Regions from separate parts of the Homo sapiens genome. Here regions 1 and 3 are each linked to region 2. Evidence: fine-mapped expression QTL. A gene starts in region 2. Each other region holds a variant in brackets. All regions are shown on one strand. Distances are between the middles of the regions. Region 1 overlaps CEACAM18 (CEA cell adhesion molecule 18). Region 2 holds the start of KLK5 (kallikrein related peptidase 5). Region 3 overlaps KLK7 (kallikrein related peptidase 7).

Region 1 (2,759 bases), 530 kb before region 2:
CAGCCAACAAAACAAACTCCCTGTACCCATGGGCCTGACATTCTAGCTGGGAAGTGGACAGTGGACAATTAAGCAAAGAGATGTCTCACACTGCAAGCAACCATAAGTGAATAGAGAAGAATAAACCCTCATAAGGGGAGAGACAGTGACTGGAAGGGGGGTGTGTGACACAGGGTCATTAACTCATTGCATAAATGTTCACTGAGCACCAACTATGTGCTACACACTGTGCCAAGCACTGAGGACAAATGGAAAACAGAAAGCTCGCCCAAGGTGGATCACCTGAGGTCAAGAGTTCAAGACCAGCCTGGGCAACATGGTGAAACCCCATCTCTACTCTATTTTGTAAAAATACAAAAATTAGCTGGGCACAGTGGCGTGTGCCTGTAATCCCAGCTACTCAAGAGGCTGAGGCAGGAGAATCACTTGAGTCCGGGAGGTGCAGGTTGCAGTGAGCAGAGATTGCACCACTGCATCCAGCCTGGGCAACAGAGCGAGACTCTGTTAAAAAAAAAAAAAAAGCTTCCCCAGCTTCTGCCCTCCTGAATCTTGTAGTCCAGGGGAAGAGAAAAATGTGAATCGATGACTTGGAGGGCTGCATGCACACATCGTGTCTGGTGCATAGTAGGTGCTTAGGAGGTAGTGTGGCTGAAGTAAAGTCTGGAGACCACATCCTGTAATGTCTTCTGTACTTTCTTGCACAGTTTCATTTTATTCTCACAGCACCCTTTCCCTGCAGGGATTCTTATCCTTTCATTACAGTTGAGGAAACTGAGTCTCGGAACGATGGAGCTGCTTGTCCCAGGTTCATGGAGATAGGCAGCAGCAGAATGGGGATTTGGACCAAGAACCTTGGGCTGTAGAGCCCCTGCATTTACCTGCTGCACTCCTCTGCAGTCTCCCTGAGCACATCAGTCTCTCTCCTTGATGCAGAAGATTGGACGCATGGTTGCTAAGAAGATGCTTTCCCCATTTACAAATTCACTCCCAAGCCAAGTTTCTGACGCCATGGCCATGCCAAATCTCTACTCCCCGTCCACCCATCCCGTCCCTGCGTCTTTCTAATTCCTCATCTTGAAGCAGCTGAAGGGAGCAGTTGAGGGTGTAGGCTATGCCTGCCTGGGCTTGAATGCCACCTCTTCCATGGGTTACAAAGCAATAGAGCCTTGAATAAGCACTCAAACTCCATGGGGCTCAGTTTCTCACCTGTCAAATGGAGGTGATGCCAATCGCATTCACTTACTCCA[G/TAG]AGAAATGGTGAGAGTCACACAGGTTAGAACAAAGGCGGGCACATAGTAAGTGCTCAGCCAATGTCTGCTACTCTTATCCCCCTGGGAGTCACCCTGACTCTGATCTGAGGACTCCAGAGGATTCACAGAGGAGGCAGCTTTGGACCCAGACCTCAGAGAACTGGGAGATTTCACCCAGAGGTTGAGAGCATGTCATGGCACAGTGGAGGTGGCACTCCTGAGGGTGGGCACTGCCTAGCAGGGCATGGAGGCAGGGAGATGTGCAAAGCATGAGCCTGGAGGGGAGCTGCTGCACTCATGGGGGGCCTGGATCCTGACGTCCATGTACATGATCAGCTGTGTCACGGGGTTCTCCACAGTGCATCGGTAACGGCCCATCTGCTCCCAGGCAAGACTCGAGAGGTTCATCTTTGCATCTGAGAAGTTCAGGAGGGAGCCATTGTGGATCCAGTGGTACTTGAGATCCAGGAAGGAATAGCAGATACACTCCATTTCCACTTGGGAGCCGATCTCAGCTGTCACAATGCCGTTGAAATCATCAGGATTGCTCCTCAGCAGCACATAGTCGGGCCCATCTGTAGAGACAGGGTAGGAGGCCCAGGCTATGTTTCTGACCCCTCGGCGTCCCGTCTCATGAAGTCCTCCCCCAGCCAGGAGGTTCCCCATTGTGCACCTCGGGCTAACCCCTAGACCTGCCCCAGGCAAGGCAGCTGTGTCAACAACAATAACCATAAGAGCATCTTCTATGATTAAGGAACTACTAGAGGCCAGGCCCATGGTGCCATTTACATTGTAATAAAATTAGTGGAGTAAAAGCCAACACATGGGGCCTACTGTGTGCCAGGCACTGTTCTAAGCTCTGTGCCTGTCCCCACATTTGTTGAATTCCCAGAACAACCCATGTGACTGGTTCCACCATTGATCCATTTTATAGATGGAAAACAATGAGGCTCGGAGGAGAGGATTAGGACTTTATGACTCCAACTGACACAGAAGGATTGAGCCAGTCTCAGGGCCTGGGAGCAACTGCCCTGAGCAGCTGCAGCCTCTGGATCCTGGGTCTTGGTTCCAAGCCTCTGACCTGTAAACAGCTGTATGGAGGTCAGAAATTGTTCACCCCTCAACCCCACCTTCCACAGGATGGGTGCCGTAGCCTGCGCTTTAGGAAATCTGACAGACCGCTGGAGTAGTTCCAGGAGACGTGAAAGTGATTTTAGATGTGTGATTATGGTTTTCAGTTGGAAGATGTGGAAGAGTTTATTAAACTCTGTGAGCAGTCCTGGAATACTGGGGAAAAATCTAAGTGTTAATGTATTTATAAGTTCAGCGTATTCGATTTCCAAGAGCTGTCTGAGAATTTGTGGAGGTCTTCCTGGGTGGTGAACTTGCCCCGGTAGGCAGCTAAAAGGCTATAAAAAAAAAAGAATGTATGGAATGCATAATTGAGTCTTTAAATAAAGCTCTCTGTTTAAGGGAGCATAGCCTGTTCAGTTTCAGTGAAAGAGAGTGAC
Region 2 (2,759 bases):
TGTATTTTTAGTAGAGACGGGGTTTCACCGTTTTAGCCGGGATGGCCTCGATCTCCTGACCTCGTGATCCGCCCGCCTCGGCCTCCCAAAGTGCTGGGATTACAGGCGTGAGCCACCGCGCCCGGCCATGATCATCTTCTTGACTATGCTGATGTGACAAGTACCTAAAGCCATCAGACTCTACCCTTTAAATATGCAGTTTGGGCCAGGCACCGTGGCTCATGCCTGTAATTCCAGCACTTTGGGAGGCAGAGGTGGGTGAATCACTTGAGGCCAGGAGTTTGAGACCAGCCTGGCCAACATGGTGAAACTCTGTCTTTACTAAAAAAAAAAAAAAAAAAAAAAAAATCAGCCGGGTGTCGTGGGGCACACCTGTAATCCCAGCTATGCTGGAGGCTGAGGCACGAGAGTCACTTGAACCCTGGAGGCGGAGGTTGCAGTGGGCCGAGATCACATCACCGCCCTCCAGCCTGGGCGACAGAGCAAGACTCTGTCTCAAATAAATAAATAAACAAACGAACAAGCAGTTTGTTGTACCTTAGTTATATCTAAAAAAAAAATGCTGTCAACAAATAGAGCAGAAGTGAAATAAAGGAAAATAAATGGGCCAAGAACTCTAAGGTATATTTGACAAATCATTCAGAACCTTTAAAAAAGAAAGAATCACAGAGGCATAGAAAGACAGGGAGGAACAGGGAGACAGAAACACCTGTGGCCCAAGGAGAACAAAACAAGGCTCCTAAGACAGACAGGAGGAGAGAGAGAGAGAGTGAGTGAGAGACAGACAGAGAAAAAGACAGAGAGAGAGAGACAGAGACAGAGAGACAGAGAGGCGAGAGGGATAGAAAGAGAGAGAGGGGTGGAGAGAGACACGAGATATTGAGAGAGACTCAGAAAGATAGCCGAGGGAGAACCACAGAGAGATGGAAGAAGACTCTGAGAAAAAACCAGAGACAAAGATGGAAAGAGGAGTATCGAGGGTGAACAGACAGTGGTGGAATGAGCAAAATGCAGAGAAGAAAGCAAGCAATCCAGGCGCCAAGAATAGTGACCCAGAGTTGGTGAGAAGCCAGATCCTTAAGGCTGGGGGAGGCAGGGAAGGGGCTGGCCTGGCTTCCGGAGACCCCTCCCCATTCTCCGGGCCAGGGAGGTAGGGAGTGACATTCCGGACTGGGTGGGGGGTGCTCTGGGGGTGGAGATAGGGGGAGCAGGAGGAGCTATTGCTAAGGCCCGATAGGCACCTCATTGCCCGGGAATGTGCCCCAGGGAGCAGTGGGTGGTTATAACTCAGGCCCGGTGCCCAGAGCCCAGGAGGAGGCAGTGGCCAGGAAGGCACAGGCCTGAGAAGTCTGCGGCTGAGCTGGGAGCAAATCCCCCACCCCCTACCTGGGGGACAGGGCAAGTGAGACCTGGTGAGGGTGGCTCAGCAGGCAGGGAAGGAGAGGTGTCTGTGCGTCCTGCACCCACATCTTTCTCTGTCCCCTCCTTGCCCTGTCTGGAGGCTGCTAGACTCCTATCTTCTGAATTCTATAGTGCCTGGGTCTCAGCGCAGTGCCGATGGTGGCCCGTCCTTGTGGTTCCTCTCTACCTGGGGAAATAAGGTAGGGGAGGGAGGGGAAGTGGGTTAAGGGCTCCCCGGATCGCCTGGGCCTCCCAACCCTCTGACATTCCCCATCCAGGTGCAGCGGCCATGGCTACAGCAAGACCCCCCTGGATGTGGGTGCTCTGTGCTCTGATCACAGCCTTGCTTCTGGGGGTCACAGGTAACCAGAACTCTGGGGTGGGAGGGTTGTGGGATTGGGAGGACTGTCTCTGCGGCACTAGAGCGCCTGTCCCCTGGGGAACTGTGTGAGCCTGGGCATGACTCCGGGACCGGGTGAATGTGAGTCTCTGTCTGTACTTGTGGTTGTGCGATCGTATGTGGCCCTGTGACTGCCACGGTGTGTGTCGGGGAGGGGGATGCCTTTTCCCATATCAGGTGACTGTGCGGCAGGTGGCACTGACCCTTTGAGGCTGTGTGTGTGGTTTTGTGATTGTGTGTGCATTTAAGATTGTGTGTGGCTCCACAGCTGTGTGGGTGAATGCATGTAGCACTGGGGGTGTTCACTGTGTGTTTGGCTGTGTGTGGTGACTTGGCATTGTATATGACTGCAGGTATCTGCAGTTCCTGTCCCTGAGGTCCCGGGATTGCGTGCAACAAAAGTGGTCATCACCATGGAAAGCTGTGACTGTGTGCTGCTTGCAGGCGATTATGTGATTGTGGCTGAGTGTGACGTTATGGATGCCCGTATTTGTGACCGTGTGACTACCTGAAGCTCTGTGTAGGGGTGACTGTATGTGACTGTGTGTGTCTGTGTGAGGCCGTGTAAATGCTACTGTATGTGTGATGGTGCAGCTGTGTGTCTGGAGTTTCTGTCTCTGCCTGGAGGGATAGAGGGTGCAGGGGTAGCTATCTCTGGGAGATGGGTGCCAGGTGACTGACTTGCAGTGTGTGCCTGTGTGCAGAAGAGTATGTGGCAGTCTGAACATCTGTGCACACACGGCATCTGTGCGTGGCACTGAGACACTGTGGATGAGGGTGTGCGATCCCGCTAGGCTGCCCGGGAGCGTGTGTACCTGGAGACAGAGCTGTATGTTAGCTGCACCTGTGGAGGCAACATGGGCGTGTCTGCAGAACTGCGTGCGTGCTTGGCTGTTACTGCTGTTGTGCGCGTGGTTCTTGGGGTGAGTTCGTGAATGATGGTGGTGCCAGGGCCATC
Region 3 (2,759 bases), 24 kb before region 2:
CTGTTGTCTTGAAATTCTCAATAATTTTTGAACAAAGGGCCCTGCATTTTCGTTTTGCACCAAGTCCTGTAAATTATGTAACTGGTCTTCACCCTGGTCTCCGAGACCATCGTGTCCCCCTTTCCTGCGCCACAGGGCACGCATCCACCCCTTGGAGATGATGTTCCTTCTCCCACTAGCTTGGAGCAGGGTCCTTAACATTGGAAAATAAAGAGTGCTCTGATCCTGGAAGCCCCACCCCTTCTCTGCAATTGGTCTCATTGGCCAAGGGTCAAACCAGTGTCTTCAAAGGACCTAGTGTGTCCCTAGCACTAGCTCTCCCATTAGTCCCCAGAGACAATGAGTCTCTTCTCATTGGCTATGGTGGAAGTCCATAATCTGCAAGACAAAGACCGATAACTGAGGAATGTATGAGAATGAGTTGGGCTTTGATCTGAAGCCAAAGTTAATCTCCGGCTCTATTCCCTCTAGGGTGACTCAGGGGGACCGTTGGTGTGCAGAGGTACCCTGCAAGGTCTGGTGTCCTGGGGAACTTTCCCTTGCGGCCAACCCAATGACCCAGGAGTCTACACTCAAGTGTGCAAGTTCACCAAGTGGATAAATGACACCATGAAAAAGCATCGCTAACGCCACACTGAGTTAATTAACTGTGTGCTTCCAACAGAAAATGCACAGGAGTGAGGACGCCGATGACCTATGAAGTCAAATTTGACTTTACCTTTCCTCAAAGATATATTTAAACCAACCTCATGCCCTGTTGATAAACCAATCAAATTGGTAAAGACCTAAAACCAAAACAAATAAAGAAACACAAAACCCTCAGTGCTGGAGAAGAGTCAGTGAGACCAGCACTCTCAAACACTGGAACTGGACGTTCGTACAGTCTTTACGGAAGACACTTGGTCAACGTACACCGAGACCCTTATTCACCACCTTTGACCCAGTAACTCTAATCTTAGGAAGAACCTACTGAAACAAAAAAAATCCAAAATGTAGAACAAGACTTGAATTTACCATGATATTATTTATCACAGAAATGAAGTGAAACCATCAAACATGTTCCAAAAGTACCAGATGGCTTAAATAATAGTCTGGCTTGGCACAACGATGTTTTTTTTCTTTGAGACAGAGTCTCTGTTGCTTGGGCTGCAATGCAGTGATGCAATCTTGGCTCACTGCAACCTCCGCCTCCTGGGTTCAAGTGATTCTCGTGCTTCAGCCTCCCAAGTACCTGGGACTACAGGTGTGCACCACCACACCAGGCTAATTTTTTGTGTATTTTTACTAGAGACAGGGTTTCACCATGTTGGCCAGC[A/G]TGGTCTTGAACGCCTGACCTCAGATGATCCACCCACCTTGGCCTCCCAAAGTGCTGGGATTACAGGCATGAGCCACCACGGCCAGCCCACAATGATATTACAAACCTATTAAAAATGATACTTAGACAGAATTGTCAGTATTATTCAAGAACATTTAGGCTATAGGATGTTAAATGACAAAAGGAAGGACAAAAATATATATGTATGTGACCCTACCCATAAAAAATGAAATATTCACAGAATCAGATCTGAAAACACATGTCCCAGACTGCATACTGGGGTCGTCATGAGGTGTCTCCTTCCTTCTGTGTACTTTTCCTTGAATGTGCACTTTTATAACATGAAAAATAAAGGTGGGGAAAAAAGTCTGAAGATCTAAGATTGGAGAGAGGTGACCTTTCAGGAAGGGAGACTAGAAAGAAATATGTGCCTGGTTTTGAGCCCTGGTCCTGCCGGCCCTGTTCCAGGGCATATTTCCATTTCCCAGATCTCAGTTTTTCCTGTCTGTAAAATGGGAGAGAGAGGAAAGGATGGAGAGAGGAAGAAGGAAGGGAGGAGGGAGGAGAGAACAGGCCAACTTCATCAGCGTGGGAAGGGGTGTGAAAGTGTTTCTGAGCATCTCACGAGTGACAAGTGAGGAGGGAGGCTGGCGGTTTTCAGAGGGATTGGGATGACAGTAGACAGGACACAGGGGTCCCACGGGGGTCTGCCAGAAGTAAGCAAACAGTGCCGGAGGAAGATGGTGGCACCTGCTCCCCAAGAAGGGAGGGAAAGGAACCTCGGGAAGCGGGTAGGATGAGGGAGGAGTCCTCTGTGACTCAGAGCCTGGCCACAGCCCCAGCCATCTAACATCAAAGATCCTCTGTGTGGTCACACCTCAGACGCTGCTGACCGAGGAGCCACTCCAGCCCAGGACACGCCCTCCTACCTGTTCTTCCTGTTTTTCTCCCAGAATTCCCTCCCCACCAAGATCCTCCAGATCCTTCCCCTCCTTATCTCATCTCCCTCTGAGTCTCTCCTAACCCAGGCACCACAGCCCTGTCATATTGCAGAAATTCTGCAGCCGCTAATTCTGATTCTCCCATATAGGAGGCTAACACAGAAAACGCAGGAGTCCAGGCCCCCAGCCCCTCCTCCCTCAGACCCAGGAGTCCAGACCCCCCAGCCCCTCCTCCCTCAGACCCAGGAATCCAGACTCCCCCCAGCCCCTCCTCCCTCAGACCCAGGAGTCCAGAACCCCAGCCCCTCCTCCCTCAGACCCAGGAATCCAGACTCCCCCCAGCCCCTCCTCCCTCAGACCCAGGAGTCCAGACCAGCCCCAGCCCCTCCTCCCTCAGACCCAGGAGTGCAGGCCTGCCCCCACGAGCCCCTCCTCCCTCAGACCCAGGAATCCAGACTCCCCCCAGCCCCTCCTCCCTCAGACCCAGGAGTTCAGAACCCCCC

The links.
Region 1: its variant is fine-mapped to the expression of KLK5 in visceral fat (GTEx, PIP 0.97).
Region 3: its variant is fine-mapped to the expression of KLK5 in lung (TOPMed, PIP above 0.99).

What each region holds. Positions count from the first base shown.
Region 1 is chr19:51,482,081-51,484,839 of GRCh38, reverse strand. CEACAM18 (CEA cell adhesion molecule 18) reads right to left here. Exons shown (of 6, transcript NM_001405061.1): 4 at 1,544-1,823. Among named protein-coding and RNA genes, the nearest start is that of CEACAM18, 4.9 kb to the right of the region's middle. The variant G/TAG (reference allele first, on the strand shown) is at 1,248.
Region 2 is chr19:50,951,589-50,954,347 of GRCh38, reverse strand. KLK5 (kallikrein related peptidase 5) reads left to right here and starts at 1,310. Exons shown (of 6, transcript NM_012427.5): 1 at 1,310-1,601; 2 at 1,680-1,763. The coding sequence starts at 1,691. The region is part of intron 1 of LOC105372442 (a long non-coding RNA gene); the gene reads right to left.
Region 3 is chr19:50,975,404-50,978,162 of GRCh38, reverse strand. It overlaps KLK7 (kallikrein related peptidase 7), which reads left to right. Exons shown (of 6, transcript NM_005046.4): 6 at 472-1,695. The coding sequence ends at 627. Among named protein-coding and RNA genes, the nearest start is that of KLK7, 7.1 kb to the left of the region's middle. The variant A/G (reference allele first, on the strand shown) is at 1,316.